4 linked regions of the Homo sapiens genome follow. The protein of the gene in region 4 interacts with the protein of the main gene of each other region in a pairwise test. Each region holds a gene or a part of one and is shown on either strand. Other genes may lie near its edges.

Region 1 (7,617 bases), on a different chromosome or scaffold from region 4:
AGGATGGCTTCTAGATACATTATAATTAAAGAAATGAATGGACTTGGTAGTGGTTTGGATATTGAGAGCAAAGGAAAAGTTAGAAGCAAAATTGACTCCAAGATTTCAAATGTGAGAAACCAAGAGATCATTAATGCCATTCACAGAAACAAATGAAATGAAAGGGGAAGTGGTTTGACATAAAAGCTGTGAGTTTGGCTACAATCATGATGAATGTCGAGTGACCCTTGGACATACAAGTGGGAAAATGTATAGCAGATGGAAAAGATAAGATGTGGAAATGGAAGTCTTGGAGGTATCCACTTAGAGGTGATATTTAAAACTAAGGGTTGATAAGAAGTTATAGAGAAAGGCAAAACGTAATAGGTTATAGGCTAAATAAATGCTAAACCTTTGAGGGAAACCCAAACTTAAGGAAGAGAAAAGGAAAAATAGACAAGAAGGGAAGTGGTAGAAAAGCAGTTGAATAAATAGTATAGAGTCATGGACAAGAAGGAAAGAGAAAATTTAAGAAGTAGGAATTGATCATGTGTGTCACATAGAGCCAAGGGGATGAATAAAATGAGAATTTGGAAAAGTATTCCTTATAGCCCTTATCACACTTGTAATGAATTATTTGGGTGAGTTAACACCCTTCCTAACTAGACTGGAGATATATAAAGGCAGACTTAAGTGTTCCCTACTGTAACTTCAGTGCTCAGCAATGCCTGATGCATAGCTGTCACTAAATAAATATTTATTGAATGGATGAATGAATACATAAATAAATGAATGTACTTGAATTTCCTAGCAGCACTACAGGTGACCCTTGGAAGTACAGTGTCAATAAAGTGATGAAGATTGATTTTATGTCATAGGGGAATTTGAAAGAAAGATTTTAAAAGAGAAAGTGAGGCAGTAGGGTATGTTTTATTAATCACTTCTTAGAGAAATGTTTTTGTTAAAAGGAGAGAGAGACCAGATCAAGTGAATTTTTTATCCCAGTACACTACATGTTTATTATATTTTGTTCCTCTAGGAGCTCCTCCCTATTTTAGATAATCTTTCAGAACCTAAGGTAACCACAGCGGTTGCTAACTCTGCAAGTAACAGAAGCACCATCTGCTTTTTTGCTGTCTTCAGTAAAATCAAAAGTCCATGGGCTAAGCAAGATGGAAGATGTAGAGAAACAGAGGTCAAAGGAAATGATGATACTCCCCACAGAAAGAGATAACCAGGAATGGAACGAGGTTGGAGAGAAGTTTTGTGAAATCATGGAAAATGTGTGAATGTATATAGAGGGGTGAGAGAGAAAGAGGATGAGAGACCACAGACAAGTAAGATATGAATGTACAAAAGCATATTTACAAGTAGATTTTAAGTAGAATGTATTAAAGATGATTAGCTAAGTGCTTACGCAGGATGGCAAAATAGTCATAAGATACATCATCATATAATAGAGCTTAAGTAAAACGAACTGCTCATTTTACATATTAAAGCTACATTTCCTTTTCCTTCCCTTAACATACTAAATAATAATAAGGAAGTAATTTCAACAAAAATACTAAATGGGCCTCCAAAAGAAAAGAGGTAGAAGCTCAATAATTTTATTCACTAAACCTATCAGAAGACTTTAACAAATCTGAATAAATAGAAGGATAACATAGCTAATACCCAAACTTAAAATAGCAAAGAATTTCAGGAAATCATAAATACATAGAAAAAGCATGATTCAACAACTAAAAGAGCAGTAAGACATTTTCTCAGTTATTAGTTGCCCACATGTAAATATGCATGTATATGTGGGTATGTACATATATATACTGAGGGATGCAAGGACCAATTTAAGGATTTCACTAGAGTCCAAACAAATGGCTTCATGCATTTAAGACCTAGGGTATGAATTGTAACACTTTTGTGTGTAAGCTGTTGTCCAAATAACATATAAACAACTTATTACAAAATGAAAAAATTATATACTTAATTCCTGTGTTTAAAATACTTTTTAAGGAGGCTACTACTGAAGTAGTACTTCTAAATGCATTATTACATGTAAACAATATTTTATACTATTTTGAATGCTATAAATATATAACTCCTGTTTTCTCCAGGCATATGCTTTTCTCCAGGCATACACATATACTTGGAGCAAAGAGAAGTTATATATTAATAGTTGTAAAATTACGTTTTTCATTTAAATGAGGAAGACAGTATTGGTAATTAAAACAATCTACATTAAGGAGAAATTTTTTAAACCCTGATGCATCTTTTCAGAGTATATTAATGTTCACAGTTAATATCGCATTTCTGTAAGCTGTTACAGTATCATATTCATGTTGAAATTATTCCAGGTTTTTCAGACTTTATTAATCCTTCTACTGAATTTATATCCATACTGGATATTTGTCCATATCAAAAATGGAACTGAATGTAAAAACAATTAAATAATTCCAAATGAAACATCTAAATTTTCTAATAAATGAAAGAAATTCAGAGCAAAAGGACAATCTATGTTATATAGAGATGTGAGAGGTTTATATAGAGAGGTGTGAGAGATTTATAGCAAAATGATGCAACACTTCTGCTGTGAATTTGATTTTTTTATGTCACTAGAATGCATATTTGTTCCTGGAGGCACTCACTCTTCAGTAGAACCTAGTGCAATGCTTCACTTCATAGATAGAATCAAGTGTTAATAACAAAAAGATACTTATATTTCTCTCCTCAATCCATTAAACTCATAGCTACCAATGGCCAAAATGTCCCTTCTGTACATATTTCTCCCTTTTTTACTGTAAAATACAATATCAAATGGTGGAAGGAGCTGTTTTCTTCCTGACCAGCAAATCCCACTACTCCCCTACCACACACAAAATACAGAAATTAAGAAATCAGATATCACACTGGAGATCCCTAAACGCATTAGTCTTACCTTAATCTGAAGGTTAGAATGTTTTTATGGGCTTATTTTTCTCTCAAACACACAAACTGTAGAATGCTGGACTACTTGACCCTTGTGAACTACTTGGAGCAGGAACTTGAAAAACCAGCCTCTCATATTCCCACAATCTATTTACACATTGAACACACCCAGTAGCACAGAGTAATGTTTATCTGTTGCAGACAGCTATTTCAAGAAGAAGGCAGTATCTCTAAAGCTGAGCTTTCAAAAAGGAATGTCTCTGTTGATCAGCAGGGGAAAGGTAACAGGTTTCATCTAAAGCACATTTTAAACATTTTTTGACATGAGGTATTTTTTACACCAGTGTTTTAAAGGTGATTCACTCTTTTAATATTCTTCTACCCCTGAAAATCTCTATTCTTAAAAAACCTGGGAGAAACGTGATAACAATGAACACATATGTGCCAGGCACTGTTGTAAGTGCTTTACATATATCCTCTCCAATAATTCTCCAAATGTGTTAGGTGTATAATATTATTATCCCCATATTACAAATGAACAAACTAAGTAGTCTGCCCACAGTCACCCAGTTAGTAAGTACTGGAGTCAAAAGTTAAATCCAGGCACTCCATAACCATAGTCCAGGTATCTAATCATAGCACTGTGCTATGTATGTATGACTTTTAGAAGACAAATGTGTAACAGTATGTGATTGCTCAGCTGAACATTAGAGAATGAGTGAGGTTTTCTCAGTGCTTGTATGGTACTGAATCTTTAGTTGAAGTAAGTGAAATTTTTGTTAAGATCACTTCTGCCAAGGTGATTACCCATTTATGTTACCATAGCCAGGTCCCTTTTAGCTACAGTGGGGAACCCCAAAGGTGGTGTCCTGGAGAATCGAAAACGTGAGTCTAGCTTGAAGTACCAAGAGAGTTATTACTTTCTTATGTTAAAAAACTCATACAAAAGAAGTCAATACAACACCTTTAAAAAGTTTAGAGATACATGTTTTGTTCCATTTTTTTCAGATTGGATGATTACTTTTGATCTGTCTTCAAGCTCATTTGATGCTAGCCATCTCCAAACTAATGTGAGCCCATCTAGTGTGTTATTAATTTCAGTTACTATAATTTTTTAAGCTCTAAAATTTCCATGTGGTTATTTTTATAGTTTCCATTTCTCTGCTGAAATTCACTATCTGTACATTTATAAAGATCATATTTTCCTTTCATTCTTTGAACCTATTTTCTGTTTGTTCTTTGAATACATAATAATTGATTTAGTCTTTTTCTATGAAGTTTAACAACTGGACATTTTTGGGTCTGTTTCTACTGATTTTATGACAATAGGTGATATTTTCTTGTTTCTTTGCATGTTGAATTTTTTTATTGCATATTGGACAATGGGGATCATATAGTGTAAAGACTCTGCTATCTCCCTCTGAGGAGTATTAATATTTGTTCTATTAATATTGGCATTTCCATAGAATTGGTTTGGTTTTGCTAATGTAGTTATGCAGAAAGTCTAAGGTCCTTTCCAAGCCTGATGAATTTGGGAGATCAACCTACAAATTCTGTCTCCCCTGCAGATCTTGTAAGGGCTGAGTTTTAGGATTTTTTATTTGTAATTTTTATGGAAAAATAGTAGGTGTATATATTTATGAGTTACAGAGATATTTTGATACAGGCTTGCAATATATAAAGATCACATCAGGGTAAATGGGGTATCCATAGCCTCAAGCAATTATCCTTTGTGTTACAAACAATACAATCATACTGTCTTCATTATTTTAAAATGCACAATTAAATTATTATTTTTACTATAGTCACCCTGTTGTACTAAGAAATACTATGTCTTATTCATTCTTTCTATTTTTGTACCCATTAATCCTCCCTACTTCCCCCCAGCACCTCACTACCCTTCCCAGCCTCTGGTAACCATATTTCTACTCTCTATCTCCATGAGTTCAATTATTTTCATTTTCAGCTCCCACAAGTAAGTGAGAATATGCAAAATTTTTTTTCTGTGTCTGGCTTATTTGACTTAACATAATGACCTTCAGTTCCATCCATGTTGTTGCAAACGACAGAATCTCATTCTTCTTTATAGATGGTAGCACTCTATTGTGTATATGTACCACAGTTTCTTTATCCATTCATCTGTTGATGGACATTTATATTGCTTCCAAATTTTGTCTATTGTAAATAGTGCTGCAGTAAACATGGGAGTGCAGATATCTCTTGAATATACTGATTTCCTTTCTTTTGGGTATATACTCAGGAGTGGGATTGCTGGATCATATGGTAGCTCTATTTTGAATTTTTTGAGGAACCTACAAACGGTTCTCCATGCGATTGTACTATTTAAATCTAAGACCTCAAACTATGAAACAACAAAAACAAAACATTGGGAAACCTCTCTAGCACATTTGACTGGGCAAGGATTTATTGAGTAATACCCCACAAGCACAGGCAACCAAAACAAACAGTGACAAATGGGATCACATCAAGTTAAGAAGCTCCTGCATGGCAAGGAAACAATCAACAAAGTGAAGAGCCAACCTACAGAGCAGGAGAAAATATTTGCAAACTACCAATCTGACAAGGGATTAATAACCAGAATATATAAGGAGCTCGAATAACTCTATAGGGAAAAATATAATGATCTGATTTAAAAACTGGCAGGGGATCTCAATAGACATTTCTCAAAAGAAGACATACAAATGGCAAAAAGGCATATGAAAAGGTGCTAAATATCAGTGATCATCAGAGAAATGCAAATCAAAACTACAATGAGATGTCATCTTACTCCAGTTAAAATGGCTTATACCCAAAAGAGAAGCAATAACAAATGCTGGTGAGGATTTGGAGAAAAGGGAACACTTGTACACTGTTGGTGTGAATACAAATTAGTACAACCACTCTAGAGAACAGTTTGAAGGTTCCTTTAAAAACTCAAAATATGAACTTAAAGTAGTTTTTTCCAATTCTGTGAAGAAAGTCATTGGTAGCTTGATGGGGATGGCATTGAATCTATAAATTACCTTGGGCAATATGGACATTTTCACGATATATATTCTTCCTACCCATGAGCATGGAATGTTCTTCCATTTGTTTGTATCCTCTTTTATTTCATTGAGCAGTGGTTTGTAGTTCTCCTTGAAGAGGTCCTTCACGTCCCTTGTAAGTTGGATTCCTAGGTATTTTATTCTCTTTGAAGCAATTGTGAATGGGAGTTCACTCAGGATTTGGCTCTCTGTTTGTCTGTTATTGGTGTATAAAAATGCTTGTGATTTTTGTACATTGATTTTGTATCCTGAGACTTTGCTGAAGTTGCCTATCAGCTTAAGGAGATTGCCAAGTCAATCCTAAGCCAAAAGAACAACACTGGAGGTATCACGCTACCTGACTTCAAACTATACTACAAGGCTACAGTAACCAAAACAGCATGGTACTGGTACCAAAACAGACATATAGACCAATGGAACAGAACAGAGCCCTCAGAAATAATACCGCATATCTACAACTATCTGATCTTTGACAAACCTGAGAAAAACAAGCAATGGGGAAAGGATTCCCTATTTGATAAATGGTGCTGGGAAAACTGGCTAGCCATATGTAGAAAGCTGAAACTGGATCCCTTCCTTGCACCTTATACAAAAATTAATTCAAGATGGATTAAAGACTTAAATGTTAGACCTAAAACCATAAAAACCCTAGAAGAAAAACTAGGCAATACCATTCAGGACATAGGCATGGGCAAGGACTTCATGTCTAAAACACCAAAAGCAATGGCAACAAAAGACAAAATTGACAAATGGGATCTCATTAAACTAAAGAGTTTCTGCACAGCAAAAGAAAACTACCATCAGAGTGAACAGGCAACCTACAGAATGGGAGAAAATTTTTGCAATCTACTCATCTGACAAAGGGCTAATATCCAGAATCTACAATGAACTCAAACAAATTTACAAGAAAAAAGACAAACAACCCCATCAAAAAGTGGGCAAAGGATATGAACAGACACGTCTCAAAAGAAGACATTTATGCAGCCAAAAGACAGATGAAAAAATGCTCATCATCACTGGCCATCACAGAAATGCAAATCAAAACCACAATGAGATACCATCTCACACCAGTTAGAATGGCGATCATCCAAAAGTCAGGAAACAACAGGTGCTGGAGAGGATGTGGAGAAATAGGAACACTTTTACACTGTTGGTGGGACTGTTAACTAGTTCAACCATTGTGGAAGTCAGTGTGGCGATTCCTCAGGGATCTAGAGTAGAAATACCATTTGACCCAGCCATCCCATTACTGGATATATACCCAAAGGATTATAAATCATGCTGCTATAAAGACACATGCACACGTATGTTTATTGCAGCACTATTCACAATAGCAAAGACTTGGAACCAACCCAACTGTCCAACAATGTTAGACTGGATTAAGAAAATGTGGCACATATACACCATGGAATACTATGCAGCCATAAAAACCAATGAGTTGATGTCCTTTGTAGGGACATGGATGAAGCTGGAAACCATCATTCTCAGCAAACTATTGCAAGGACAAAAAACCAAACACCACATGTTCTCACTCATAGGTGGGAATTGAACAATGAGAACACATGGACACAGGAAGGGGAACATCACACTCTGGGGACTGTTGTGGGGTGGGGGGAGTGGGGAGGGATAGCATTAGGAGATATACCTAATGTTAAATGAAGAGTTAATG
Region 2 (6,933 bases), on a different chromosome or scaffold from region 4:
AGGTGAAGCAAATGCTTAGCTGATCTCCATGTTGAAGCTGATACATCCAGGAGGCGTAGAGGTAGGACATGCCCTCTTCCTCATACCGCATGCTGACCGGAGGGCACATGGCCAGGCTGCCTGCCTACTGCCGGGGTGGACAGCAAGAGCTGGGCCTTCAGAGGATCTTGGACGGTCTGGCCACAGGTGCTGAGGCCAGTAGGATGCTGGGCGGCAGGGATGAAGGGGACAAGGAGCAGGAGGAGAAAGGGGTTTCCTATCCAGGGATTTGGGGTGGGGTGGATGACCTGGGTCCCAGCTCAGTGGGGACCTGCAGAGGGTGGAAGCTTGAACTTCTGGAAATGTCTTCAGCTTCTGCAGTTGCTGTGGTCTCAGGAGAGCTGGAAAGGCAAAGGAAGGGAGGTTAGGCACCCCCAGCAGGCAGGGTGGGGGCAAACTGTGGGGACCAGCAGGGGCAGGGATGTTGGGGTTCAGACTGGCCCTTTAGTGGGGACCCTGCTCAGTTTGAACAGCACCGGGGCTGGGAGGCCTTCAGTTCCTCCATCCGACCTCCCCGGGCTCATCAGCCACCCCCTACACCTCAGGGACCCCAACAGCCCATCAGCTTCACCTGACAGAACCTGGGGGAACATGAGGGAAACTGGCAGAGCCTGAGGGGACCTGATGGAAATTGAGGGAACCTGAAGGAAACTGGGGGAACCTGAGGGAACCTGAGGGAAACTGGGGGAACCTGAGGGAAACTGGGGGAAACTGAGGGAAACTGGGGGAACCTGAGAGAAACTGGGGGAAACTGAGGGAACCTGAGGGAAACTGGGGGAAACTGAGGGAACCTGAGGGAAACTGGGGGAACCTGAGGGAAACTGGCAGAGCCTGAGGGGACCTGATGGAAATTGAGGGAACCTGAAGGAAACTGAGGCAACTTGAGGAAACCTAAGGGAAACTGAGGGAAACTGGGGGAACCTGAGGGAAACTGGGGGAAACTGAGGGAAACTGGGGGAACCTGAGGGAAACTTGAGGGAAACTGGGGGAAACTGGGGGAACCTGAGGGAAACTGGGGGAAACTGAGGGAACCTGAGGGAAACTGGGGGAACCTGAGGGAAACTGGCAGAGCCTGAGGGGACCTGATGGAAATTGAGGGAACCTGAAGGAAACTGAGGCAACTTGAGGAAACCTGAGGGAAACTGAGGGAAACTGGGGGAACCTGAGGGAAACTGGGGGAAACTGAGGGAACCTGAGGGAAACTGAGGGAACCTGAGGGAAACTGGGGAAAACTGAGGGAACCTGAGGGAAACTGGGGGAACCTGAGGGAAACTGAGGGAACCTGAGGGAAACTGGGGGAACCTGAGGGAAACTTGAGGGAAACTGGGGGAAACTGAGGGAACCTGAGGGAAACTGGGGGAACCTGAGGGAAACTGGGGGAAACTGAGGGAACCTGAGGGAAACTGGGGGAACCTGAGGGAAACTGGGGGAACCTGAGGGAAACTTGAGGGAAACTGGGGGAACCTGAGGGAAACTGGGGGAACCTGAGGGAAACTTGAGGGAAACTGAGGGAACCTGAGGGAAACTGGGGGAACCTGAGGGAAACTTGAGGGAACCCGAGGGAACCTGAGGGAAACTGGGGGAACCTGAGGGAAACTGAGGGAACCTGAGGGAAACTGGGGGAACCTGAGGGAAACTGGGGGAACCTGAGGGAAACTTGAGGGAAACTGGGGGAAACTGAGGGAAACTGGGGGAACCTGAGGGAAACTGAGGGAACCTGAGGGAACCTGAGGGAAACTGGGGGAACCTGAGGGAAACTTGAGGGAACCTGAGGGAAACTGGGGGAACCTGAGGGAAACTGAGGGAACCTGAGGGAAACTGGGGGAACCTGAGGGAAACTTGAGGGAAACTGGGGGAAACTGAGGGAAACTGGGGGAACCTGAGGGAAACTGAGGGAACCTGAGGGAAACTGGGGGAACCTGAGGGAAACTGGGGGAAACTGGGGGAACCTGAGGGAACCTGAGGGAAACTGGGGGAACCTGAGGGAAACTTGAGGGAAACTGGGGGAAACTGGGGGAACCTGGGGGAAACTGGGGGAACCTGAGGGAAACTGAGGGAACCTGAGGGAAACTGGGGGAACCTGAGGGAAACTTGAGGGAAACTGAGGGAACCTGAGGGAAACTGGGGGAACCTGAGGGAAACTTGAGGGAAACTGGGGGAAACTGGGGGAACCTGGGGGAAACTGGGGGAACCTGAGGGAACCTGAGGGAAACTGGGGGAACCTGAGGGAAACTTGAGGGAAACTGAGGGAACCTGAGGGAAACTGGGGGAACCTGAGGGAAACTTGAGGGAAACTGAGGGAAACTGGGGGAACCTGAGGGAAACTGGGGGAACCCGAGGGAAACTTGAGGGAAACTGGGGGAACCTGAGGGGAACTTGAGGGAAACTGGGGGAACCTGAGGGAAACTGGGGGAAACTGAGGGGAACTTGAGGGAAACTGAGGGAACCTGAGGGAAGCTGGGGGAAACTGAGGGAACCTGAGGGAAACTGAGGGAAATTTGAGGGAAACTGGGGGAAACTGAGGGAAACTTGAGGGAAACTGAGGGAACCTGAGGGAAACTGGGGGAACCTGAGGGAAGCTGAGGGAAACTTGAGGGAAACTGGGGGAACCTGAGGGAAACTTGAGGGAAACTGAGGGAACCTGAGGGAAACTGAGGGAAACTTGAGGGAAACTGAGGGAACCTGAGGGAAACTGAGGGAACCTGAGGGAAACTGAGGGAAACTTGAGGGAAACTGAGGGAACCTGAGGGAAACTGAGGGAAATTTGAGGGAACTTGGAGAACCTTAGGGAACCTGAGGGAAACTGAGGGAAATTTGAGGGAAACTGAGGGAACCTGAGGAATCCTGGCCCCGCTTCAGCCTCCCAACCCCTCACCCAGCACCAGGCCGTGTCTCCGAGACCCCTCCTCAGAGACCCCTCCTCGGGAGATCTCACCATCCTGGTGTCTCTGTTCATGTGGGCACCCAGGGAAAGGAGGAGGCAGAGCCCATTTGGGTATATAAAGGGCCATTTCCCATGGTGCTCTGGGCTCATCTGCATATCTCCCATGAGCCTCAGTTTCCAGGAAATGAAAGTGCTGAGTCACCAGCTCCCTCCAAGGAGGGCCATGTGCAGCCCCTGGGCACCTGCAGGAAGGCCCTGGAGAGGCAGCTCCTCTGGGGGCTGGAGATTGGGGTGGGTGCTCTCCGTCTGCAGGCTGGCACAGGGTGAGCATCCAGCCTGTGGTTGCTGGCCCGTCGTGGGCACGACGTCCTGGTCCTGCCGCGTTTGTAAAACGTGATCCCTGCTTTGCTGTCTCTGTCTTAAAGTTCTCTGAATTTTAAGAACCAGCCAATTGTCAATTAGTTATTGTTTAAACACATTTTCCCCTTTGTGGTTCATCTCTTCGCTCTTTAAACAAGACGCTTATAAATTAACACTTGTTTTTTCAGTAGACTCTATTTTTTACAGCAGTTTTAGGTTCATAGCAAAATTGAGCCAAAAGCATGGAGCTCTCCCACCGCTCCCCTGCTCCTGCAGGTGCACAGCCTTCCCCAGTCCTCCCGTCCCAGCCATTTGTTACACGTTGTTATTATCATCATCGCCCTCTGCAGTTTCCATTATGCTTTCCTCCGGTGCTGTGCATTCTGCAGGTTTGGACACATGTATAATCATGCAGACCCACCACTCTAATATTGTACAGACGGGTTTCTCCGCCCCGATTCATCTGTGTTCTGCATTTTCATCACTCCCTCTCCCAGCCCCTGGCAACCAGGAATCTTTTGACTGTCTCCTTAATTTTGCCTTTTCCAAAATGTCACAGAGCTGGACTCATACATTATGTAGCCTTTTCAACTTCTTTTTTAGTAATACGCACTTTGGTTCTTCCATGTCTTTTGTGGTTTGATAGTTCACTTCTTTTTTTTTTTTTTTTTTTTTTTGAGACAGAGTCTTGCTCTGTCACCCAGGCTGGAATGCACTGGTGAAATCACAGCTACTACAGCCTCAACCTCCTGGGCTCCTGTGATTTTCTCACCTCAGCCTCCCAAATAGCTGGGACTACAGGTGCTGGTGCACACCCCGATAAGTTTTGTATTTTTTGTGAGACAGGGCCTCACCATGTTGCCCACACTGGTATCAAACACTTGGGCTCAAGTGATCCGCCTGCCTCTGCCTCCCACAGTGCTGGGATTACAGACGTGAGCCACCTTGCATGGCCAGCTCACTTATTTTTTAACACTGAATGGTATTCCATTGTCTGGATGTACCATGGTTTATTTATCCATTCACCTATGGAAAGACATCTTGGTTGCTCCCAGGTTTGGGCAATTATGAATAAAGCTACTACAAATATTCATGTGCAGGTGTCTGTAGACATAAGTTCTCAACTCATTTTGGTAAACTCTAAGGAGTGAGATTGCTGGATGCTGTGGTCAGAGTGTGTTTAGTTTTGTAAGAAAGTGACAAATTGTCTCACACAGTGGCCCTGTGGGAGGAACCCCCAAACCCTTTCCCTACATCCCCATGACCTCTGCTCCTCCCCACCTGGCAGCTGTCTGTGCCTGGCTCAGGTCATCCACACACCTGGGGCTGCCTGCCACCCCCACCAGGTTAGGGCTCAGATCAGGGCCACCCCTCACCCTGGGGCTTCCTCGTCCCAGTCCTGGGATAGGGGCAGGTGTGGGGCTTTGGCTGCCAGGTGTCCTGCTGTGGGTGGAGAGGGCAGTGAGCTCATTCCCTAAAGACTCGGGTGCCTGAGCTGTCTGGCTGGTCCCCTCAGGTGAGAGGAAAGTAGTGGTTGAGGGACCCCACAGAGAAGCCTGTTTATGGGTCTGGGGGTCAGAGGCTCCCGGGAGGAGCCCCCAGGTCCTGGTTTTCTCTGAAAAGGCCACTCAAGGCCTCGGGGCTGAGCTGTGGCTGCCCTGGCCAGAAGGGGGCCGGGGAGGGAGCCCTGCACCTGTCGTGAACACTCAGGGCTGGGCCAGTGGGCGCCTGGAGGATGAGGTCCCTCCCACCTGGCCCCTCCCAGCCTCAGTTCTCAGGACACAGCCCAGCCGGCAGCTGCCAGAGTCACTGCCTAAAGGAGGTTTTGACCGAGGAGCAGCAGAGCCCTCTGAGGGCCCCTGTGGTAAGCAGGCTCCTCGCTGGTTTGCATGGCTTTTTCACACAGTAGTTGCGTCGAGAATTTAATATGCTGCGACCTCGTTGCCAGCAGGAGCGGTGTGGGACCGGGAAGCTGACGGGGAAGTGTTGGCGGGTGCAGGGCAGCGTCCACTCTGGGAAGCTGTGGCCAGCGCGTCCTGGCCAGCCAGGGCCTGGGCAGGGACTTGCCTCTCGGGCCTCGGCCTCACCCTGGTCTGAGAGTGTAGGACCCTCTCAAGGTCCTCAGTCACCTCAGCAGCCTGGGACGGAGCCTTTGGATCGCTTCCTGGGCAGCTGGGTACAGGAGAGGCCACTTGAGACAGATGTTGGGATGGACAGCTGGATTTGAGGCCCAGAGGGAAACCGTGGCAAGACTTGGTGGGTGGATGGTACCAGAGGAACAGGACGTGGCCATAATCGGGGAATCCAACACTCCTGTATCTCCAGAAGGACCAGGCATTTCCCCAGCTGCAGAGACCACTGATGGGGCAGCACAGCCATTGTGGGGCCAAGGCCATGACCCGGAGCCACTGGGGCCGTAAGCCTGACACCCAGATTGCCCACGAGCCAGAACCCCATCCCCACCATCCTGGGGTGCACAAGCTCTTGTGTTAGGAACGGGTGAAGAGGGGGAGCTCAGGAAGCTGAACGCAACCCAGAGGGGGTGGACAAGCAGGGACAAGGCTGCCAGATGGGCCTGGCCAAGCTCAGGGGCCCCCAGCTACCTCGGGGGTGCAGGTGCCAGCTGAGCCCTGCAGAGGAATGGGGTGAGGCCACGTCACGCTCTTTGAGCACCGGCTTCCGAGCTCAAGCGGCTTCGTCTCTGTCTCACCCAGAATGCCTCGCGCAGATCCGGGGCCCAGAGAACATTCCAGAGATGCTTGTGGAGTGGAGCAGCTTTAATAAGACACATTCTTGCTTCTCTGTTGGCTTCTTACCTGTGTCCTCGGGATGGCTGCCAAGGTGCTACCAACCTGCTGCATCCCTGGCTGAGGCTCAGAGCCTCCTGGGCTGGTGCCTTCCTGGGCACAGGATCCCCAGCAAGTCCAGGAATCTGACCTGAGGTCACCAATCATGCCCAGGGAAACCAGCCAGCCCCCAAAGCCTCCAAAACCCAAGTGGGCTTGGTTCTGTTGGCAGGTGACCCAGCTGGAATCAAACAAGAAAGAAAAGTGTGTTTAGATCATCAGGTGACTCACCAAATAGAACTTTCTTGAAAACTGTTTAATAATCAAGACCAGGAAAAGATTATGGAATATTCTAGCAAAGTCCAAGTACTTGGATTTTAAAATCAACATTTATCTTACTGCTCTTATATTACAAAGTTCCGCCCTCACCTCCAGTCTCAACGTTTGCACAAAGCATTTCAGCAGCACATGCAATGGCGTTATGGTTGGCTTTTCCCTCTCGCTCCTCCGCACAGCACTGAAGAAGGACAGGAGCAGTTTTCTTTGTTTCTTGCATGAATTTACTACTGAGGCTCGTCAGAGAGAGGCTGCCTGTGGGAGTGATGCATGGCCTCTGCTTCCACGGAGAAAAGCCACACGGTGGTGGCCAGGGGTGGGATGCGCCCGTGGACATGGAGGACAGATGTGTTCTGAGAAGCTGCCTGTTTCTTTTGTTTGTTTTTGAGATGGACTTTCACTTTTGTTGCCCAGGCTGGAGTGCAATGGCGCGATCTCAGCTCACGCCAACCTCCACCTCCCGGGTTCAAGTGATTCTCCTGCCTCAGTCTCCCAAGTAGCTGAGATTACAGGTGCCTGTCACCATGC
Region 3 (7,034 bases), on a different chromosome or scaffold from region 4:
GCTAGTCAGTATTAAAAACTCAATAGAAATAGGATTTTTGATTTGTTGTTGTTAAACATATGTAATTTAAGGTTGGTACAAACAGCAACTAAAAATGTAATACTTTTTTGTTTTTGTGCATCCCCATGAAATGTAAAGTAGTGCATAGTTATTCCACTGGAGAACTCCTGGACATATAGAAAGTCATTCGTTAGCAGTACAGGACATTTAAAACACTTATTTTACAATGGGAAATGTACAACCCCCACCCTCATTTCCCCCAGAAATTTTAGTTGCATGAGAAAGTTTAGCGGGTTGCCATGACTACAATGCTATGGGTTTTAGATCACTTAAATGTGGTTACAGGTTTATTAAATTAAAAATGTCTGAAACATTTCAGCATTCATATTTTTATACAAGAAGTTTGTGTGGTATCCATCTTCCAGTTCTCTTGGTAGTATCAGCCATTTGCTTGCTTATTTTTAAGTTTTGAGAACAAATCGCAGTAAGTTGAAGCAAATAGTGCTAACAGAACTTGTAAATTCAGCTTGGGGGGTGGTTCCTGAAAAGAGTCAAAGTAACAACCACCTACAGGTACAGTCATGAACCAGGAAAGTGCAATCCAAATGAAAAAATTCATGCTTTGCAAAAGCCAAAAATGAGGCCACTGGTGTTTTCAGAATAACACCGGTGCTTTGATGCTGACTTGCAGTAAAATCCTCCCTCTGGGTCCCGCAGCTTGGTGGCTCAGGCCGGCCACAGTCTCCACATTAGCACCCACATTGTATATGTACAGGGACATATATATTATATATATTCATATTTATAAAAAAGAAAACAAAAACAAACACCTGTCCTGATTGGTTTTTGTTAAAACATGAAAAAAAATTTTATTGTTTTAGACAAAGAGGCCACTTTTGGAAAATAATACTTTTTTTTTTTTAGTTGAATCAGGTGAAGACAGAGTTAAAATCACATAGGATTTGCATTTTTAAAAAAGGAAAGCACTAGGATTGTTGGCACTGGAGTAACTATTTACACTGAACAGAGGTTTGGCCTTTTACATAACATCGATACAATGCATTTTCCAAAGTCTGAGAAATAACAAGGTTCTGTCTCGAATGCTTCACAGAGGAGGTTCGGATTTGGGGACAAGTGTCATTAATGAGGGCCATGGAAGTTCGTCAGCTTCAGAGTCACATGCAATCTGATCCTGGGCGGTTCCGCTGCTGGGGAGCAGCTGGCTACGGAATTGAAAGCTAATGGGGAGGGGTGGGGCAGCCTCTGGGACAAGGCCTCTCTCCGCAGACCCGGGCCTTACAGGTTTTCACCAGGTTGGTACTGGGGCTCTGTCGCGGTAAAGTAGTCTTCCAGGAAGCTCTGCAAGTACTCAAAAGTGGGGCGTTCTTCAGGGTCCTTTTTCCAGCAGTGGATCATGAGCTCATGCAGAGAGATGGGGCAGTCCTGCGGGCAGGGCATCCTGTAGCCTCGCTCCACCTGCTCCAGCACCTCCCGGTTGTTCATGCCTGCAAAGACAAGCGCAGTGAGAGTGGGCACCCCGGGGATCCAGGCCCTGACCGCCGCACTTGCAGATCCCCTTTCTTCTTCTTTGCGTCTGCATGTGGCTAAAACATGCGGAGTACTCCCATCCCCCCAGGAGTCAAACCCTGCCATGCTACTCAGGAGTAAAGAAGGAGTGCAGAACTGAGACATGAAAAATTCAGAATGACTCTCAAAACATGATAAGTGAAGGAAGCCAGACACAACAGGCAACATACGGTATGATTTCATTCATGCGAAATTCTAGAAAAGGCGCAACTACATCTATAGAAAGCAGATCAGTGGCTGCCTGGGGGAGGGGAGGAATCCCTGCCAAGGGGCCAGAGGGAACTCCAAGTGGGATGGGAATGTTCTGTCAGGGTCAACGGGTCAACAAACTTTTCCTGTAAAAGGCCAGACAGTAAATATTTTTGGCTTTGCGGGTCACATATGATCCCTGTCTTCTTCTTTTTAACAACCCTTTAAAAACGTACAAAACAAACACAGGTTGGGAGCCAGACCTGCCAACCCCTGTTCTATATTATGTATGGGGTGGTGTGACTGTTTATGTTTGTCAAAACTCAATAAACTGCATCCTTAAAATTGTTGAATTTTATTGTGTGTAGATTATACTTCAATTAAACTGACAACAATATATGAATAAAGCAGACAAAAAAATCCACACAGAATGAAAGCATGCTGCCCCTTGTTTATAGCATTTATAAACTCCATTTATGAACTTCATAAATTCGTTTTCTTCATGCCTGGGCAAACTCTTAGTTCCCCACTGTTGGAGATCTGCCATCATGCCAGCGTGGCTGGGCACTGTCTGGCCCTGCAACCCCACAGTGCCCTGAGGTTTGGTGAATTTGATGGGGAGATAGACCATGTCCGGGGCCTATCTCTACTGATGACTTCAGCCAGGCCATCCATCATTTGAGGTTTTTCTGACTCTTGGGAAGCTGTTGAAACACTGGGCTGCATAGCACTAACAGAAGACAGATCGCTAACTCCTCAGAGAGTGCGGCCTCCTGCACACTGGCTGCCTTAACACTACAGGAACTACCATGCTTAGGGGGTGGCCAGTGTCCTGACCTCCTCCCAACTACTGCCAGCCACTATTCTCTAGTTTTGCTTCCCTTTTTCATTGTATCACCTTCTGCCAGCTCCCCGTCAAGCTGTGCTGTGCTTTGGTTGCTTCCTGGCCGGTGAGGCTGTCATCTGGAATCCTCCCCAGTATCTGACCCGGTTAATTTGCAGGAGCAAGAACCCGATGTCAAGCCATATAGAAACCAAGATTTCTTCCCCTATTTCCCAGGGCTACAGCCAGCAGGAGCACACACCATATGCATGGAGCTTCCTTTACTTCTAGGGGAGGTGGCGACCCGTTAGCTAGAAACTTGTCAGCACAGCCAGAGGCGCTGGGCCAGAGCACAGCCTGTCCCCCTGCAGAGGGAACACTCGGACTTCGGGGTCTGTTGCCAGTCCTCTTGGTTGTGTTGTTACTTGTGGAGCTGAGTGTATCCTGGCTCCTCCTGGCTGTCAACCACAGCCTGTCAGTCACATGTCTCTCCAGACCTTTTCAGGATGCTTTCTTATTCTCTGCCATTATCATTTCTTGAGGTAATAAAAATTCACATATTGTTTCTGCTGTACTGAAGTAGGCCTTCAATGCAATTATTGTAAAATAACCTCACTCACGTGTCAGGGCGACCCCTTATTTTAGGGAGAGAGGTTTGGTGAAGGAGTCAGGGTCCCTGCCTCTGTGCCATGCATGCCTTTACCAGCGACTTCCTCAGTTGCATGGGAGGAGTGAGAGGCAGCGCTGTGGCTAATTAGCCTACATCCTCCTCCAATGGCTGAAAATGGGGGATGGGGGCGGGGAGCTGGAAGCAAGGGAGGAACTGGAGCATGCTCGGGAATGAAAGGCAGCCTCCTCCGGCTCTAGATAAACGCGGACAGAGGCCAGCATTTCCTTCTCCACAATTCCACCATCCAACGAGCTCTGAACACCATCAAGTTTTTGTAACTCACTTGACTACAGAACTGATCTGAACTGACCTCATCTGGCCACAAAACCTGAACTGATTACGAGGCTATTTACTGTTTTTATTTCTTCATACATATTGCCCAGAAAGATTAGGAAGAGTGTGTAATCACGTAGCAGAACTGGCACTCTCCAAAGCATTTGCCTTGCCGCATCTTTTAGTACTGTCCTTGGTTTCATATTTCAGCAATGACAGAGCTTGGACCAGCAGAAATCTCCCTTGTCTCTGTCCCTTCCAGGAGTCCACAGGAACTGAGGGGAAACAGGCAGAAGGGCCTGACAGATCCTTCTGGGTGCGGTTACAGCCCCTGAAACGCCTCCTAATGCTTGACTCTGGCTCTGAGTGCCTCCCTCCAAAATGGCAGCACAGAGTTTAATTAATCACTCTCCTATTGCTCCACAGAGCGCATGTCAGTACATGTTTCATTTCATTAAAAAACAAACTACTCAAATGGAAAGATTTCACTTAAAAAAAAAGTTTTCATCCAATGTCTGCCAATGGAAAGTTTAATTGGCCACTGGGTCATTTTTCCAGTGCTCGGTCCAAGCCTCAGACACAGCACACTTGGTGATGTGAACCTCAACATGTAGCGTCTCCCGAGGCAGTCTTTCCTGGGCATTTGGAGCCAGGGGACAGGGCATAAGCTGGCCCATGCAGGGTCCTGGCAGACCCACATGGTCAGGCTCCTTCTCGCTCTCCCCTTTCCTGTCTGCACCCCTCCGCTCTTCCCCACTCCTCTTCTTCTCCTGCTTTCTTCTGCCCAGACCTCTCAAAGCAAGGGGAGTATATGAAAACAATTCCACGCACTGGGCCAAGTGGAAACATACCAATGAGGGCTTTGCCAGGAAAGTGGGATATTTTGACAATGCACTTGGCTGACAATGACAATTGGAATGGGACTAGCTCTTTTCCAACCATCCATAAACCAGGACCTGCAACGGGCTGACCTGCAGACCTGGCAACTTCACAATGTACCTCTGCAACAATAACGGTGGCAATCAAGATATGCCCACTCAGCAAGGCTTGGGCTAGTTTTTATTTTATAAACAATAGCTAAATTGAATGGATTGTGTTAATTCAGGGTGAGTATCCCTTCTCTGAAATGCTTATGATCAGGAGTGTTTTAAATTTCAGATTTTTTAGGATTTTGAAATATTTGCATTATAGGGCTGCTCAACCAGTAAGTTGAGCATTCCCTTTGCGTGTTATGTCAGTGCTCAAGAAGCTCCAGATTTTGGTGCATTTTGAATTTCATATTTTTGGATTAGGGATACTTAACCTGTATTTAAAATACAGTATTCTCAGCTATATGAATTTTGAAAATCATGGTTTTTTTAAATAATTTTTTTTAAATGGCTTTTACTCTGCACACTAACAAAAAGATAGGTCTACTTCATTTTTTTCTTCTTAGATGGTTTCATATTTTTGTTAGAAAGAAAACTGTCATTTCCTCTTTTTAGCCACTTTTCCCCAAGACATTGGCTTTACCTAATACCTGAGAGGTGAAGGATAGTGAATAGGAAGGGAATAAACACGAGTTTGGGCACCAGGGCAGTTGGGAGAGTGTCTTGAGAGACATGGGTACACTAGAGAGAGGAATCCTTTTATTTTTTATTTATTTATTTTTTTTTGAGATGAAGCGTGGCTCTGTCATCTGGGGTGGAGTGCAGTGGTGTGATCTCGGCTCACTGCAGCCTCCACCTCCCAGGTTCAAGCAATTCTCCTGTCTCAGCCTCCTGAGTAGCTGGGACTACAGGTGCATGCCACTACACCTGGCTAATTTTTTATATTTTTAGTAGAGACAGGGTTTCACTATGTTGGCCAGGCTGGTCTTGAATTCTTGGCTTCAAGTGATCTGCCCACCTCGGCCTCCCAAAGTGCTGGGATTACAGGTGTGAGCCACCATGCCCAGCCAGAAGAATCTTTTTATTACACTTCCAACTGAGGAGGTGGACAAGAGTGCTGGAAATGTTTTTCCTTTTTCTCCTTTTTTTTTTTTTTTTTTTTTTTTGAGACAGAGTCTCGCTCTGTTGCCCAGGCTGGAGTGCAGTGGCACAATCTCGGCTCACTGCAACCTCCACCTCCCTGGTTCAAGCAATTCTCATGCCTCAGCCTCCTGAGTAGCTGGGATCCTTTTTCTCCTTTCTTAACAGAAAGAAGAGACAGAAACTTTATAAAACATGGTGTCTGAGCACATTTTAGGGAAACAATGTCATAAACAGTTTGGCCTTCCAGGTTTCCTAGTGGGAGCTGCAAGGGAGAGCATTTTTCAACAGGAGGGGAGATCCTGGCTGGCCAGTGGTGTCTGACTGTGGGAAGAGCCACGTTCGAGCAGTATGAATGTTCCCTGGTTCCCACAGAGAGGCGGCTTGGGGCTGGGGAGCCAGCAAGCACAGAGGCCACTGCCCAATTTTGTTCCAACCCTCTCCTCCTCTGCTGTTCTGCCCTTCTAGCCTCACGGGAGCCACCAGCCCCTTCTGCTGTCTCTCTAGAATTGCTCAGGAAAACAGGCCATTGTGGTGGGTCACTTTCATAGGGTACAACTGAACAGTACTCAATCCATAAAACACCTCCAGCACTTCGGGAAGCTGAGGCAGGCAGACCGCTTGAGCTCAGGAGTTCGAGACCAGCGTGGGCAACATGTTAAAACCCTGTCTGTACAAAAAGTACAAAAATTACCTGGGCATGGTGGCATGTACCTGTGGTCCCAGCTGTTCAGGAGGCTGAGGTGGAAAGATTGCTTGAGCCCAGGAGGTTGAGGCTGTAGTGAGCTGAAATGGTGCCACTGCACTCCAGCCTGGGTGACAGAGCGAGACCTTACTAGTCCGCTGTGTGGGGGTCTGCCTTCGAGTCCCTCTTTCCCAGAGCCTCCATGGAACATCTCCTTGTCAACTCAGATTTTAGGCTTTCAAACATGGTCCCCGACATAGCATCATTTCCAGTCAGTCTGCCCCAAACACTGCAACTGAGATTCTCCAGCCAAGAAGACTGTGCTCACTTCCTGCCATTATGATTATATTATCCTTTCTAAATCATGTTGCTGGCTTCCTCCAGCAAACTCAGAGGTCAAGTTTCCAACTCTCACTTTCAAACTCTGACTCTGTAGGGTTGCCAACAGTGTCTATTCTTGTGTGTGTGTTTTCTTTTCCCTTTTCTTTTAAACTTCCCTATTCCACTTCTTTGAGCTGTACATGAACTCAGTAGTCTTCCCTTTTTCCTTTTAGATTCTTTGAAAAAAAATTTTTTAAGGGACAAGGTCTTGCTCTGTCACCCAGCCTGGAGTGCAGTGGCATGATCATGGCTCACTGCAGCCTTGAACTCCTGGGCTCAAGCGATCCTCCTCACACTTCAGTCTCCCAAGCAGCTAGGACTATAGGTATGCACCACCATGCCTGGCTGATTTTTATTTTTATTTATTTTTTTTTTGTAGAGATAGCATCTTGCTATGTTGCCCAGGCTGATCTTGAA
Region 4 (7,000 bases):
ATACTCAAAAAGGGAAAAGAAAAACTAGAAAATCGTATGAATAACAAATCAGCACCAGGGTCAATTTGGGAAGGGTGAGAGGGAAGAAAGAGTTAGCTTGATAACCTTAGACCCAAGCTCCCAAAGACAGAACCTAGAGAGACAACGAACTACCTAGGCTAAGTAATCAGGAATTTTAGTGAAAGGCAAATATTAGCTTCTTAGCTCCTACTAATGAGCTCTACAAGGTTTTGAATGCAAGCCATTGTTAAAAATGAACATCAAGAAGTTAGTTCTTAACTCTTCTCAGCAACATGTGACTATGTAAGATATTCTCAAGCTCTTTCCAAATTCTCACCAGTATTTGCAAAGTCAAGCCAAGAGGCTGAAGCTGGTAACCATCACTGCACACTTTCCTCCTCAATCAATCCTCCACCAAGTAGGAAGGAGGTATATCGATATTCGAACATTTTTAAAAGGGTACAAGGTTGCCTGACCCTGTTTACTAAAAAGCACTAGTTATTGCTGACATTGTACTTGTTATAACTTACTTAGTCATTATTGGACATTACTGAATTATCGTTACTACTATAAAAAGTTCAGGCCGAGTGCAGTGGCTCATGCCTGTAATCCCAGCATGTTGGGAGACCCAGGCTGGCAGATTGCCTGAGATCAGGAGTTCGAGACCAGTCTGGCCAACATGGTGAAACCCCCTCTCTACTAAAAATACAAAAAAATTAGCCCGACGTGGTGGCATGCGCCTGTAATCCCAGCTACTTGGGAGGCTGAGGCAGGGGAATTGCTTGAACCAGGGAGGTGGAGGTTGCAGTGAGCCGAGATCGCGCCACTGCACTCCAGACTGGGTGACAAAAGCGAGACCTCGTCTCAAAAAAGAAAAAAAAAAAAAAAAAAGCTCAATTTGTTGGAAGTTTCATATTTTTAATCCAGTTTTTAAAAAATTTTAAGTAAAAGAGCAGTTTATTTTTATGCTTTAAATATACTTTTCTTTTCTTAGATATACCTGTAAATTTTGTATTATAGTTTCTCTATGATGTATGTCTTTAGACCATTTTATTTTGACAAAAAAGACTCTGATGGCTGGGCGCGGTGGTGCACGCCTGTAATCCCAGAACTTTGGGAGGCCGAGGTAGGCAGATTGCCTGAGCTCAGGAGTTCGAAACCAGCCTGGGCAACATGGTGAAACCCCATGTCTACAAAAGACACAAAAATTAGCCAGGCATGGAGGCACTTGCCTGTAACCGCAGCTACTTGGGAGGCTGAGGCAGAATAATCGCTTAAACTCAGGAGGCGGAGGTTGCAGTGAGCCGAGATCATGCCACTACACTCCAGCCTGGGTGACAGAGTGAGATTTCGTCTCAAAAAAAAAAAAAAAAAAAAGTCTGAAATAAACATGGTGAAAGTATCACATGGGAATTATTCTGGAAAGCAATTTAGAAATCTGTTCCAAGGCCTTAAAAATGTTCATATCCTTTAACCCAATAATCTGACATCCTCAGAAAAACTAGAAGAAATGATAAGACATTTGAGGTGTAGAGGCAATATAAGAATTGTTCATTGCAATATTAATTATAATAGCAGAATTCAAAAGGCTCACATATAAATTATGCCACATCCATTCATTTTATGAAATATCATGCAGCCTGTTACAAAGACTATTTACTGTCATAGGAAATGAGTACAACACTTACAAGGTAAGTGTGTATATGTCACAGAAAAAGAATGTGCCAAAATACTAACATCAGTCACTGAAGGAGGTGAGAGTATGCTTTCTTTTTTTTTTTTGAGACAGAGCCTCGCTCTGTCGCCCAGACTGGAGTGCAGTGGTGTGATCTCTGCTCACTGCAAGCTCCACCTCCCGGGTTCATGCCATTCTCCTGCCTCAGCCTCCAGAGTAGCTGGGACTACAGGTGCCTGCCACCACACCCAGCTAATTTTTGTGTATTTTTTAGTAGAGACGGGGTTTCACTGTATTAGCCAGGATGGTCTCCATCTCCTGACTTCGTAATCTGCCTGCCTCGGCCTCCCAAAGTGCTGGGATTGCAGGCATGAACTACCGCGCCCAGCCTTTTTTTTTTCTTTTTGAGACAGTATCTCGCTCTGTCACCCAGGATAGAGTGCAGTGGCACAATCTCGGCTCACTGCAACCTCCACCTCTGGGTTCAAACGATTCTCCTGCCTCAGCCTCCAAAGTAGCTGTGATTACAGGTGTGCACCACCATGCCCAACTAATTTTTTTGTATTTTTAGTAGAGACAGGCTTTCGCCATGTTGGCCAGGTTGGTCTTGAACTCATGGCCTCAAGTGATCTGCCTGCCTCAGCCTCCCAAAGTGCTGGGATTACAGACATGAGCCACTACGCCTGGCCATGTATGCTTTAATTTCTATATTTCTTTTCTCTTTTTTTTTTTTTTGAGGCGGAGTTTCACTCTGTCACCCAGGCTGGAGTGCAGTGGGGTGATCTCAGCTCACTGCAACCTCTACCTCCTGGGTTCAAGCGATTCTTCTGTCTCAGCCTCCTGAGTAGCTGGGATTACAGGTGCCCATCATCATGCCTGGCTAATTTTTGTATTTTTAGTGGAGACAGGGTTTCGCCATGTTGGCCAGGCTGGTCTTGTACTCCTGACCCTCCTGACCTCAGGTGATCCGCCCACCTCAGCCTTCCAAAGTGCAGGGATTAGAGGCGTGAGCCACCGTGCCCAGCCAATTTTGATATTTCTTAAAATAAAATTTTTAGAATGTTAGTTTTTCTAATTAAGTAGATTTAAGTTATTTTTTATTATTTATTTATTTATTTATTTGAGATGGAGTTTCACTCTTTTTGCCCAGGCTAGAGTGCAATGGCACGATCTCGGCTCACCGCAACCTCGCCTCCCGGGTTCAAGTGATTCTCCTGCCTCAGCCTCTCAAGTAGCTGGGATTACAAGCATGCGCCACCACGCCTGGCTAATTTTTTGTATTTTTAGTAGAGATGGGGTTTCTCCATGTTGGTCAGGCTGGTCTTGAACTCCTGATCTCAGGTGATCTGCCCACCTCAGCCTCCCAAAGTGCTGGGATTACAGGTGTGAGCCACCGCGCCTGGCCTTAGATTTATTTTTTACATTAACTAGATAATTGATGATATAGAATTACAATTAATTATTATGATTATTATTTTATGACAATAGCATTTAACTATGTTAAAAATAAAGCTAATATATTTTAGAGACACATATTAAAATGGTTATAGAATAATATGATGATTGAGATTTGTTACAAAATAATCCAAACTTGCAGGTGGGACAGTGGAAAGAATGGGAGATGGGAGTATTATAAAACGAGATTGGGCCGGGCTCAGTGGCTCATGCCTGTAATCCCAGCACTCTGGGAGGCCGAGGCAGGTGGATCACTTGAGGTCAGGAGTTTAAGGCCAGCCTGGACGACATGGTGAAATCCCGTGTCTACTAAAAATACAAGAATTAGCCAGGCATGGTGGTGTGTACCTGTAATCCCAGCTACTTGGGAGGCTGAAGTGGGAGAATCGCTTGAACTCAGGAGGCAGAGGTTGCAGTGAGCAGAAATTGTGCCATTGCACTCCAGCCTGGGCAACAGAGCAAGACTCCATCTCAAAAAAAAAAAAAAAAAAAAGCAAGATTGGCCGTGTGCTAGTATTTGTTGAATCTGGGTCATAAACAGGAGTATGCTAGTTTTTCTACTTTTGTATAAATTTGGAGTTTATTATAATAAAAAAGTTAATTTTGAAACTTAAAAGTAAAAAGCACTAATAAGCACTACTTTGAAATTTAACATATAATTAGCCATTAATCTATACTGAATAAAGACTAGAAATATCTCACATTAAGAGGATGTCAGCTGATCAGAATTTTCCTTCATCTACTTCTGAGTTGTGACTTAAAAACAAAACAGAAAAAAAGGTAAATATTTTCTTCATTATACCATCAAATGTAAAATGAGCCAATATTTATAGGTGCTGCTAATATACTGTCAATTATGACTGTAAGATGCTTCTCAATTTCAGAGACATTGAAATGTGAAACTATGTGCATCTCAGAATGGATGAAATACAGCAAATAGTAAGTCAGATTGAGCTATGACTCTGTTTTCTGACCTAGGATCAGTGGGTCTGATTATTTATCTTGTAATCTTTAACATGAAGTTTTCTTTCTCTTTTTTTTTGAGACGAAGTCTCGCTCTTGTCCCCCAGGCTGGAGTGCAATGGCGTTATCTCAGCTCACTGCAACTTCTGCCTCCCAGATTCAAGCGATTCTCCTGTCTGAGCCTCCCAAGTAGCTGGGATTACAGGCACCCACCACCATGCCCGGCTAATTTTTGTATTTTTAGTAGAGATGAGGTTTCACCATGTTGGTCAGGCTGGTCTTGAATTCCTGACCTCAGGTGATCCACCTGCCTTGGCCTCCTAAAATGGTGGGATTACAGACGTAAGCCACCGTGCCCAGCCTTTTATTTTTCTTTAAAAAAAAAAAGTGGGGGACAAAAGTCTGAATGATAGTTACTTGAAAAGAATGTATTTTCATATGGTGGAATTCCTATTTAGCAAGCACTTACAAGGCTGGGCACAAGGTAAGGTTTTAGGAGTTGATCCAGATTTATGGTTTGCATCCATTCCCCTGATGCTAACAGGCTTACAGGACTGCCTGAAGCGGCCATGAGCAGCTAAATGAACTACCACGTCTATTTGGGAATGCGCTCCCATACCTCCAAAGCTGTTTTTCGTACTGATTGGTAGAGGAATTTTGCAGGGTTAATCAGGTAAGCAAGAAGTACATCCAAAGGATCAATTGGCATTCTTCTTGTCTTGTCCTAATTTCATTTTTCTTTTAATAAATGAAATTTTATAAGGTTTCCTTCACTCAGTTTAAAAAATTTATCCAGTATTGGGGCAAGGTTTTTTTGTTTCATGTTATTTGCCGTAAATTTTTATTTTTATTTATATATATATACATATATTTTTGGAGACGGAGTCTCACTCTGTCACCCAGTCTGGAGGGCAGTGGTGCGATCTCGGCTCACTGCAACCTCCACGTCCCGGGTTCAAGCAATTCTCCTGGCTCAGCCTCCCAAGCAGCTGGGACTACAGGCGCACGCTTCCATGCCCAGCTGATTCTTTTGTATTTTTAGTAGAGATGGGGTTTCACTGTGTTGCCCAGGCTGGTCTCGAACTCCTGACCTCAGGCAATCTGCCCGCCTTGGCCTCCCAAACTGCTAGCATCACAGGCGTAAGCCACCGTGCCCGTCCTATTTGCTGTAAATTTTTAAAAAATACATTCAAATATTCACAGGATTCAGGCAGTAACCATTTACAAATAGACAAAATAGCCAAAGCAAATATTAAACATGCTACTTTAACTTGTACCAACTACTTTACTTTTCAAAGTAGGCTTCTCGTCTCTTCCGAAGCTCTTCTGAAGTAAGATTTGTACCTGATGTCTGTGTCATATCTTGAGATATGTTTCTGGAACTACCTGAAAACAAAACACAACACAACAAAAACCAATCACTGTATTTACCAATTCAAGCAACAATATGTTTGTTTATACTCATTTGAGTAAGCCTTTAAAACGTTTTCTCTTTAAGAATATTCTACTCTTCTGGCTGGGCGTGGTGGCTCACACATGTAATCCCAGCACTTTGGGAGGCCAAGGCAGGTGGATCACCTGAGGTCAGGAGTTCAAGACCAGCCTGGCCAAAAGGGCAAAACCCTATCTCTACTAAAAGTACAAAAAATTAGCTGGGCGTGGTGGTAGGCGCCTGTAGTCCCAGCTACTCAGGAGGCTGAGGCAGGAGAATCGCTTGAACCTCGGAGGCAGGGGTTGCAGTGAGCCAAGATCACTGCACTCCAGGCTGGGCGACAGTGAGACTCTGACTCAAAAAAAAAAAAAAAAAAAAAGAAAGAAAAAAAAAAAAGAAAGAAATCTAAAGCTGATTTCTGTCCCTGCTAATCCAGCAGGACTCTATTAATCAAAAATGGGATTGCACACCATATGGAGTACTCAGAGGCATGCATAGAGGCAAGAAAAGTTCAGGATAAAAATAATCTTCCCATTAATGAAATTTCAATTTTATTTAGATATCTAAGGAAATCAACTGATAAATAATTTCATTAGAAAGTAGAAGCAAATACATATGAGTTAGAAAAAAATAAAACAAAAAACCCACTTCAAACTTTTAATTAAGCTACTTTGAGCTATGTCTTAACATTTTTCTTTGCCTAGATTGTCTAGGGGATATGTTTTCGCTTTTCTCTATTGATAGTTTATATCACTAAAAAACTGGGCCCACCAAAGTGGGCTTACGGTTTAAGTTGCATAGCCAATAAATGTTGGGTTTTTGTAAAATCAGTTTATATTCCCTGTCCAGGCCCTTCCATAGTGTCTAATGGCACATATTTATGTAACAGCTGATTTGGATAAGGGTCAACTGATACCCACAAAGATTAAAACCACAATTTACTATTGTGTTAGTACAGTGTTGAAACCAAATAAAATAACCAGGAGTAAAAATATAACTACTCCTAATAAAATATAGGTTGTAAAAAGTGATTTCCATTATAAGAAATCTAAAGGGAAAGCCCACTATATAGCTATTGCTTCTGCAGTAATTGTCAAAACACCTCTAAGAGTACATTAACTTCCATGAAATCTAAGAATAATTGGAATCAATTCTTCAGCAATGAATACAACACACATCAGAATGTCTTTACCTTGCATACTTAGCTGAATAGCCCTGCGGAGATCTGCTTCCTCATCTTCCATGTCAATTTCTTGGCGACTTAGTGCCAGAGCCCTCTGCAAATCCTCCTCATCTTCGTCTAACATTCCTGAGCCATCATTTGCTTCTAACACTCGTTCCAGGTCTGTTTTATGGACTCTAAAGAACAAAAGCACTGGTAATAACTGCAACCAATCTTCTATTTTAGACATAACATAAAGGCATTTGTAATGTAAAGGCTTTAAGTAAGTCAAAACTTAAAATGTTTTCTGGCA

What was found.
Region 1: the proteins of ATXN3 (region 4) and SYTL5 interact in binary tests that used the Homo sapiens proteins (3 or more experiments, as listed by UniProt).
Region 2: the proteins of ATXN3 (region 4) and TEX19 interact in binary tests that used the Homo sapiens proteins (3 or more experiments, as listed by UniProt).
Region 3: the proteins of ATXN3 (region 4) and FYN interact in binary tests that used the Homo sapiens proteins (3 or more experiments, as listed by UniProt).

What each region holds. Positions count from the first base shown.
Region 1 is NC_000023.11:38,001,963-38,009,579, reverse strand, and holds the start of SYTL5 (synaptotagmin-like protein 5), read right to left. Parts: upstream 3,028-7,617; 5' UTR 2,912-3,027; intron 1-2,911. UniProt on the Homo sapiens protein: May act as Rab effector protein and play a role in vesicle trafficking. Binds phospholipids.
Region 2 is NC_000017.11:82,355,327-82,362,259, reverse strand, and holds the start of TEX19 (testis-expressed protein 19), read right to left. Parts: upstream 3,014-6,933; 5' UTR 2,975-3,013; intron 381-2,974; 5' UTR 110-380; coding exon 1-109.
Region 3 is NC_000006.12:111,660,443-111,667,476, forward strand, and holds part of FYN (tyrosine-protein kinase Fyn), read right to left. Parts: intron 1,506-7,034; coding exon 1,297-1,505; 3' UTR 1-1,296. UniProt on the Homo sapiens protein: Non-receptor tyrosine-protein kinase that plays a role in many biological processes including regulation of cell growth and survival, cell adhesion, integrin-mediated signaling, cytoskeletal remodeling, cell motility, immune response and axon guidance.
Region 4 is NC_000014.9:92,075,583-92,082,582, forward strand, and holds part of ATXN3 (ataxin-3 reference isoform), read right to left. Parts: intron 6,885-7,000; coding exon 6,718-6,884; intron 5,480-6,717; coding exon 5,383-5,479; exon of another isoform or gene 5,371-5,382; intron 3,887-5,370; exon of another isoform or gene 3,833-3,886; intron 1-3,832. UniProt on the Homo sapiens protein: Deubiquitinating enzyme involved in protein homeostasis maintenance, transcription, cytoskeleton regulation, myogenesis and degradation of misfolded chaperone substrates.